2 linked regions of the Homo sapiens genome follow. The protein of the gene in region 2 interacts with the protein of the main gene of each other region in a biochemical or structural test. Each region holds a gene or a part of one and is shown on either strand. Other genes may lie near its edges.

Evidence for each region.
Region 1: the proteins of RLIM (region 2) and SMURF2 form a complex in vitro, tested with the Homo sapiens proteins (one study listed by BioGRID).

The regions. Positions count from the first base shown.
Region 1 is NC_000017.11:64,655,616-64,659,440, reverse strand, and holds part of SMURF2 (E3 ubiquitin-protein ligase SMURF2), read left to right. Parts: intron 1-3,825. UniProt on the Homo sapiens protein: E3 ubiquitin-protein ligase which accepts ubiquitin from an E2 ubiquitin-conjugating enzyme in the form of a thioester and then directly transfers the ubiquitin to targeted substrates.
Region 2 is NC_000023.11:74,583,598-74,587,422, forward strand, and holds part of RLIM (E3 ubiquitin-protein ligase RLIM), read right to left. Parts: 3' UTR 1-3,825. UniProt on the Homo sapiens protein: E3 ubiquitin-protein ligase.

The sequences.
Region 1 (3,825 bases), on a different chromosome or scaffold from region 2:
GGTTGCCTAATAGAGGAAAAAAAATCACTTAAAAAAAGACAGATCCCACAGTGAATTTATATTTGGTTTACAATACACTTGGGCTATAAGGTGTTTTAAAATTATTGTTCTTTGCTTTAAGTTAATACCATATTAGTATTTTAAATTTATAGAGTACCTTTGATTTCAAGATGCTGTATAAACTTTAGTTACTTGATAATAACTTTATTGTGGAATTGCCCCTTTGCTGAAAGGTATAAACATTTCTTACATGGTGATGCACACACTCACACACACACACTCACACACTCATACACACTCTCTCTGAAGAAGAGGAAATATTTAAGCCATGAGATCTCTGCCCACAATTGATATTAAACCTTTCCACATATTATTCTTAAAACCACAATCAGTGAACTGTTTGGTATTTGTCAATGCTAAGAAGGTGGGGCTAATTTAATAATTTGATCCCAAATTTTAGATTCCTCAGGCAGTTGGGGGTTAGAATCTGATTTCATCCATCAAGCTACTTCTGTTCTTTATGACACATTAACATATGATCATTGAAATGGGCTGTATGGTAACACTATCAACTTCAACTACTGTTTCTATAACATTGATTACAAAATGTATAATGTCTATATCATTATACTTATATCTGATACAGGCTTTTCTTTCAATGGTTTGGATAGAAAAATATTCTTTACAGTAAAAACTTTGGGATAATTTTTTATACCATTATTGTTTCTGAAAACCAAAGGCTGGAAAAAGCAGTTTAGTGTAATTTCTAATATTTTAAATTCTTAGGTATGGAGAAGCAGAATAAGATTACTCCTCCAGAACATTTGTTTCAGACCTTTTTATACATTTAATGTTTTTGTATGCTGCTTCTCATGTTATTAATTTCAAAGCCCTTGGCAATAAGGAGGTTAACCTTGTCTATAATGTAAGGAAGTTTAACTTTAAAAATTTCCCTTTAGATATGCTAGCGTCTTAATCTTGTTTCACTACATATTTTATCGATTCAAGGCTTTAAAAATTGTAGCTTAATTCTATTTCACAGGTTTTTAAGTATGCCTATACATCATAATGACTTTATTTATTTATTTTTTGAGTTGGAGTTTCACTCTTGACTGGAGTTGAAGGGCTTGATCTCGGCCCACTGCAACCTCCACCTCCCGGGTTCAAGTGATTCTCCTGCCTCAGCCTCCCGAGTAGGTGGGATTACAGGCGCCCACCACCACGCCTGGCTGGTTTTTTTTGTATTTTTAGTAGAGACGGGTTTTGCCACGTTGGCCAGGCTGGTCTCAAACTCTGGACCTCAGGTGATCCGCCCGCCTTAGCCTTCCAGTGTGCTGGGATTACAGGCATGAGCCACGGCACCCGGCCCATAATGACTTTATATACTAGAGGTGTTAGTGATTTGAATGTCCCCAATTTGTTTTATTTTCTTGGTTTCTGAGGAGGAAGCCAGTGTAGTTGAGCTCCTTCCTTTTCTTTTAAATTCTGTCTTCTAGTCTGACCCTCTTCAGGCAGGCAGTAGAACATGCCAAGGTCCTTTTTGTAGTTTGGTATTCGTAATAAAGTCTGTGTATTTTAGTCATCACTTTTACTTTTTTCTTGTTGGTTGAGCTATTACTATCACAACATACTAACATCTCATTTAACATAACTCAGTTTTAAAGATAAATGAAGGGTCATGCTTAGGCATACAAGATTTTTATTTTAGCCTTTTTTTTTTTTGAGGCAGAATCTCATTCTGTTGCCCACACTGGAGTGCAGTGGCAACAGCGTGCAGTGAGCAATCCCGGCTTACTGCAGCCTTGACCTCCCGGCTCAGGTGATTTTCCCACCTTGGCTTCCCAACTGGCTGGGACTACAGGTCCATGCCACTGTGACTGGCTGATTTTTTTACCTTTTTTTTTTTTTTCCAGTACAGATGGGGTTTCTCCAGGTTGCCCAGGCTGGTCTTGAACTTCTGTGCTCAGGAGATCCTCCTGCCTCAGCCTTCCAAAGTGCTGGGATTACAGGTGTGAGCCACCATGCCTGGCCTATTTGAGCCTTTTTTGGTGAGAGTCTTAAAGACGTAATATGTCCTCCTCTTTTCAAATAGACCATACTTAGTAGAACTTAATGTTTTATTCATGACTCAGTATAATTATGAATGCCCTCGCCCCTAGCAATACTTGCCCATCTTTTAAGGCTCAACTCAAAGATTACTGTTATCCCTAGAACTTTCCCTGACCTGAGTTGAACTGTCCTCTATGACTCTAAGAAGCTCTTCTAGTACCAGACCTAACCCACTGGTAGGCGTTTATTGTTCCTATGCTTTAAGTGCCATGAAGCCAGCATCCTTGTGTGAGTATGGATTAAGACCTTTTTGGCATTTTATTTAATGAATGCTGGAGAGCTATAAATACTTCCGAATAGTTCTGCATGTGTTCTTTATGGCTAATGCATTGGGTATGAGTGGCAAGAGGTGAGGCTCTAGACAGGGACCAACCTAGTTTGGACCTTACTGTAGTTTGCCAAGATGTTCATTTTTTTTAAGGTGGGGGGAACCATTGCAGGATTTTAAGCTTTAATATATTTGCTGTTTAGACACAATCTGGGAGCAGTATGGAGGATGGACTGGAATGGGAACCATGAAGACTGGTTTTAGGATAACTGGTTAAGCAGATTCAACAGCAACCATCGTTCAGATTTTTTTGTTTGAATGTTTATTTCCAAATTTTTTATTACAAATAATTGCTGTAAACATCTTGGTGTAGGTAACTTTGATTTTTTTTTTAAGGATTCTTTTTTTTTAGGATGCTTCCATAAAAATAGTGTTACTGAGTTCAAGTGTGTGGATATTTTTAAGGTTTCATGAGTAATTTTTCCTTTAGGCTGCTTCTTACAAGAGTTGGACCTATTTAGAGCAGCAGTAAATAAAGATGTCCCTTTTTACTATTCTGTTATAAGTATAAGCTAATTGCATTTTACATTTTTTGCTAATTTCATGGCATGTGCCATTTAAACATTCGTGAAGCAGAATATTTTCCTGTCTGTTTACTAATGATATTTATTTTCATTGACTTGTTTGGCCTTGTCCTAGTTATGTTAGAGCCTTAGTGTTTTTCTTATTGATCTACCTGAGACTTACAAATATATTAACCTGTTGTCATATTTGCTACAAACATTTCCATGATGAATTATTTGTCTTTTAATATTGTTCATTGTTTGGACATGTAGAAATGTGTTATCTTAGGAGTCAAAATCTGTCCAACTTTTGTTTTGTTTTTCCTATTCTATACTTGGAAGAACTTATTCTCCAAGAAGTTTGATAAATAAGTACATTATATTTAATGTTTTTAAAAAATGGTTTAATAAACTATTTCCCCTGCAATTGCTATTTAGCCATCTTGTCATTATTTATTAACCAATTCTTCCTTTCCACAGTGATGTAGTATCTTTTCAGTTATATTAGTTATAGAGTCAGATATAGCTCTTGTTCAGTGCCATACTGTTTTTTTTATTGTAGCTTTATAATTTAGTTTAGTATTCTCACTAGGCCAGTTTTTTAAAGAGACGGAGTCTCACTCTGTCACTCAGGCTAGAGTACAGTGGCGTGATCTTGGCTCACTGGAGCCTCTGACCCCTGGGTTCAAGTGATTCTCCTGCCTCAACCTCCCTAGTAGCTGGGATTACAGGTGCATGCCACCACTCCCAGCTAATTTTTTTTTGTATTTTTTTTGGGTGGAGATGGGTTTACACCATGTTGGTCAGATTGGTCTCGAACTCCTGACCTCAAGTGATCTGCCCACCTTGGCCTCCCAATTTCTTTTCATTTGTTTTGGTAGTCTT
Region 2 (3,825 bases):
TGATACCGTTTGCCCTAGGGCTGATTACAAGGTACACTTAAACTGCTAAAATGATAGTTCATGTTATTCATAGTGCTAAGGTGTATCTGGTAATGCCCAGTGCTTTACTGAATTTACAGTATATTACCATTAATCCTCCAAAAAACAAAAAAACAAAAAACAATTTGCGGCCGGGCGTGGTGGCTCACGCCTGTAATACCACCACTGTGGGAGGCCGAGACGGGCAGATCATGGGATCAGGGGTTCAAGACCAGCCTGGCCAACATGGTGAAACCCTGTCTCTACTAAAAATAGAAAAATTAGCTGGGCGTGGTGGCGGGCGCCTGTAATCCCAGCTACTCGGGAGGCTGAGGCAGGAGAATCGTTTGAACCCAGAGGCAGAGGTTGCAGTGAGCCAAGATCGCACCATTGCACTCCAGCCTGGGCGACAGGGCGAGAATCCATCTCAAACAAACAAAAAAATAAACAAAAACCAATTTGGCCTTTTTTTTTCTTGGCAAACCAGCCAAAACTGATGTTTTTCCTAAGAAATCACACCTCATAAGCAATCTAGTCTAGGGCTTGGGATAAATACTAAGAAACAAATTAGAAGTCATATAGTAGTGGGATTAAGAGCACAAGGAAGATGACTGCATCAAAGATGATTGCAAATAATCTGCTACTTACTATGTGACCTGGGCAAATTACCAAACATCTGTATCTCAGCTGCATTACCTATAAAATGGGTGGTATACTTTCACCTCACAGTCACTGTGATGATTAAATAATTTATATAGAATACTTAATACAATGCCTGACAGCAACCAGAAAAGTTTAGCTAATTTAATTATAGTTAGTAATCCATGCAAGGCCTTATAGTTAAATCTTGTCTAAATTCAAAGACCTCAAAGAAACTGGACCCTTGCTTTCTTATTTTTTAAAATGACCATTAAGAGTTCAGTTTATAATCCACCCAGATTTATCGAATCCTTTCTTCTAGGTATCTGGGGGTTTTTTTGAGACAAGGTTTTGCTCTGTAACCCAGGCTGGAGTGCATCAGCATGATCATGGCTCACTGCAGCCTTGACCTCCCGGGCTCAAGTGATTCTACCACCTCAGCCTCCCAAGTAGCTGGGACCACAGCTGTGTACCACCACACCTGGCTAATTTATGTCTGGATCCTTTTCACTGACCTAAGATGCCTGTGCTTTGGCTTCATTGTCTAGAGCACTAACTTTTTGATGGTGGTATTGAGTTTCAAATAATAAAATCATGAATGACACTAAACTTAAAACCTTGGGAAGGTCATGAGTTGAAGAGCTGACTACATCAAAACTATCCTGAGAAACCGAGTTATGATGCCAATGACAGATAGCTCTGCAGGCACCAGAGGAAATGAAACTATAATACAATACACCAGGTGTCACAATGTGACGATTTACTTGAAACAAGGACATCTTAGTGGCTTAAGCAATATGTTTAAGAGATTAAGATAGAAATGGAAGACAGAAGTACAAGCACACGTGCACACCTACAAGTTTTTGTATATATACAGGGCAAGCAAGGGAGTGGTCAGAGCAATGGCGAGAATACAAGAAACAGCAAAGATGCGCCTACTTAAAATGTCATTCACATAAATCTTTCCAGGATTCTTGTATTGGAATATAATCTTTTATTTTACCACTCAACGATTAAGCCATTCAACTACACAACACAGATAAAACGGAAGTTATAACATATAAACCAGTACCTGCCCACACTCATAGCAGTGAGGGGAATAAAAATCAAGGTTGCACTGTAATTCCATGACTCTAAAAATCAAGTCTATTTGACATTGGTTTGAAGCAACAGAACCTTTATAGCAGATTCCCCTTTTTAAAGAAAAACCCAAGGAGAGATGATCAAGCACAAATGATCACTTCATGCATTTTATTGATAGTCTATATTTTAAATCTGCAGTATGACATCTTACATAGGGAAAAAAGCTTCTTCCTAAAAGATAACTATTAATAATCAAACCAGCTTTAATATGATTGACCTTTCAAGGTCTTGTTTTGCTTTAAACAAGTTAACTTTTAGCAGTTGTAAAGCACTGTACAAAAGAAAACTGTGTACATTCTCAAAATTTAATACAGGGCTTCCCAACCAGGAGTCTGCTGGATAGGTATCGGAGAAGGGTGTTATGTTCAGGTTTAAATTGAAAGAAAATGAGAAACCAGATAAAGCAAGCCAACCAAATTAACTTCACTTTGTGCTCCTCTCTGCTTTTTTGAGTCTCTCCCGAAGGTCAGGAAGCCCTGGTATAACAATCACTTTAGTCTTTACAGAACATACATCTATGTGCTTTGTGACCAAAGACATAAAGGCAGCCTTTGTTACTGTTCCCCCTCCAAACCCCTTCAGGTTCTTATAAGCTTCAGAAAGCTTTCCAAGATTGCTGCCCTGTTCTTTGTATGAATCCAAGTAAACAACTATACCAAAGCAGCTCTTCCTGGGAGAAGATAAAACAGGCACAGATACATCACCAGGCCAACTGCGTACCTACTCAACTTGATACCTGATCACATGGCCCTACATCCTTAAAAGCAGCACCAGGGACAAATGGAGCTATCAAGAGGTAAAATCCAAACACTGGACAGTTAAAACACATACAAACCAGTTAAAAGAACATTAGTAATGGGGCACTAAATAGAGTTAAGGCTGGACAGCTGGTTCAACCATACCTTGGTATTGAAATAATTCTGCAAGATGAGGAACTTACAGAGGAACCTTGAAAGAGGCACCATGATATGACAGGGTTCACTTTCACTGCATGTCTTTAAGATATCTACTACTCAGCCCAACTGACCATAAAGCAGCTCGTGGAACTTTAATAAACAAATCCTAATAAAAATAAATAATTTTTAGAATGTTGGAGGGTATGCCTATTTCCTTCAGATCTGATCAAGACATGAGAATTATAAAACCGATACAAACTGTTCTGTGATTATCACTTGACAGTTCTAACACTGTTATACAGCTCAATTCTATGCTGCAGCCTTTAAGATACAAACTGGGGTTACATGAGATCACTCACTTGTTAGAGAAGTATCAGATAAATTTTAGAACTGTTCCAGTTAAGGAAAATAATTCTTAATTTCATAATCCTAAAACTTTTTCTAAAAATTTTTGCAGGGCAGGTACTTAACTCATAGCTGTTTTAGTTGATTAAAAAATCTGATTTAAAAATAAGTAAGGCTGGGCGCAGTGGCTCACGCCTATAATCCCAGCACTTTGGGAGAATGAGGCAGGCAAATTGCCTGAGCCCAGGAGTTCAAGAACAGCCTGGACAACATGGCGAAACCCCATCTCCACAAAAAATTAGCCAGGCAATGTGGTGCATGCCTGTAGTCCCAGCTACTTGGAAGGCTGAGGTGGGAGAATCACCTGAGCCCAGGAAGTCAAGGCTGCAGTGAGCTGTGACCATGCCACTGCACTCCAGCCTGGGTGACAGAGCAAGACCCTGTCTCAAAAAGTAAAAAATAAAATAAAATAAAAATAAATAAGTGACATACTAGTTCCTCGGATCTTTTACTTTTTTCCAAATGAAGTATGCTGTCAATTTACATTTTTCATGTTTTTTCAAAAGCACACAATTTACTAGTTAACTCAATGAATTACAATACTGTTATTGAATATAAACATACTGAAGAATTAAAGGGAAAAAAACACACCTGACACTTTAACATGTGCCTTAACAATCTTGCATACTAAGGTACAGAATACTTCAGAAAGTAACAATTAGCATAGTCTTATAAGACTAGGAGAATAAAAGTGCCCTGCAAACATGGCTTCTATGTACTTAAT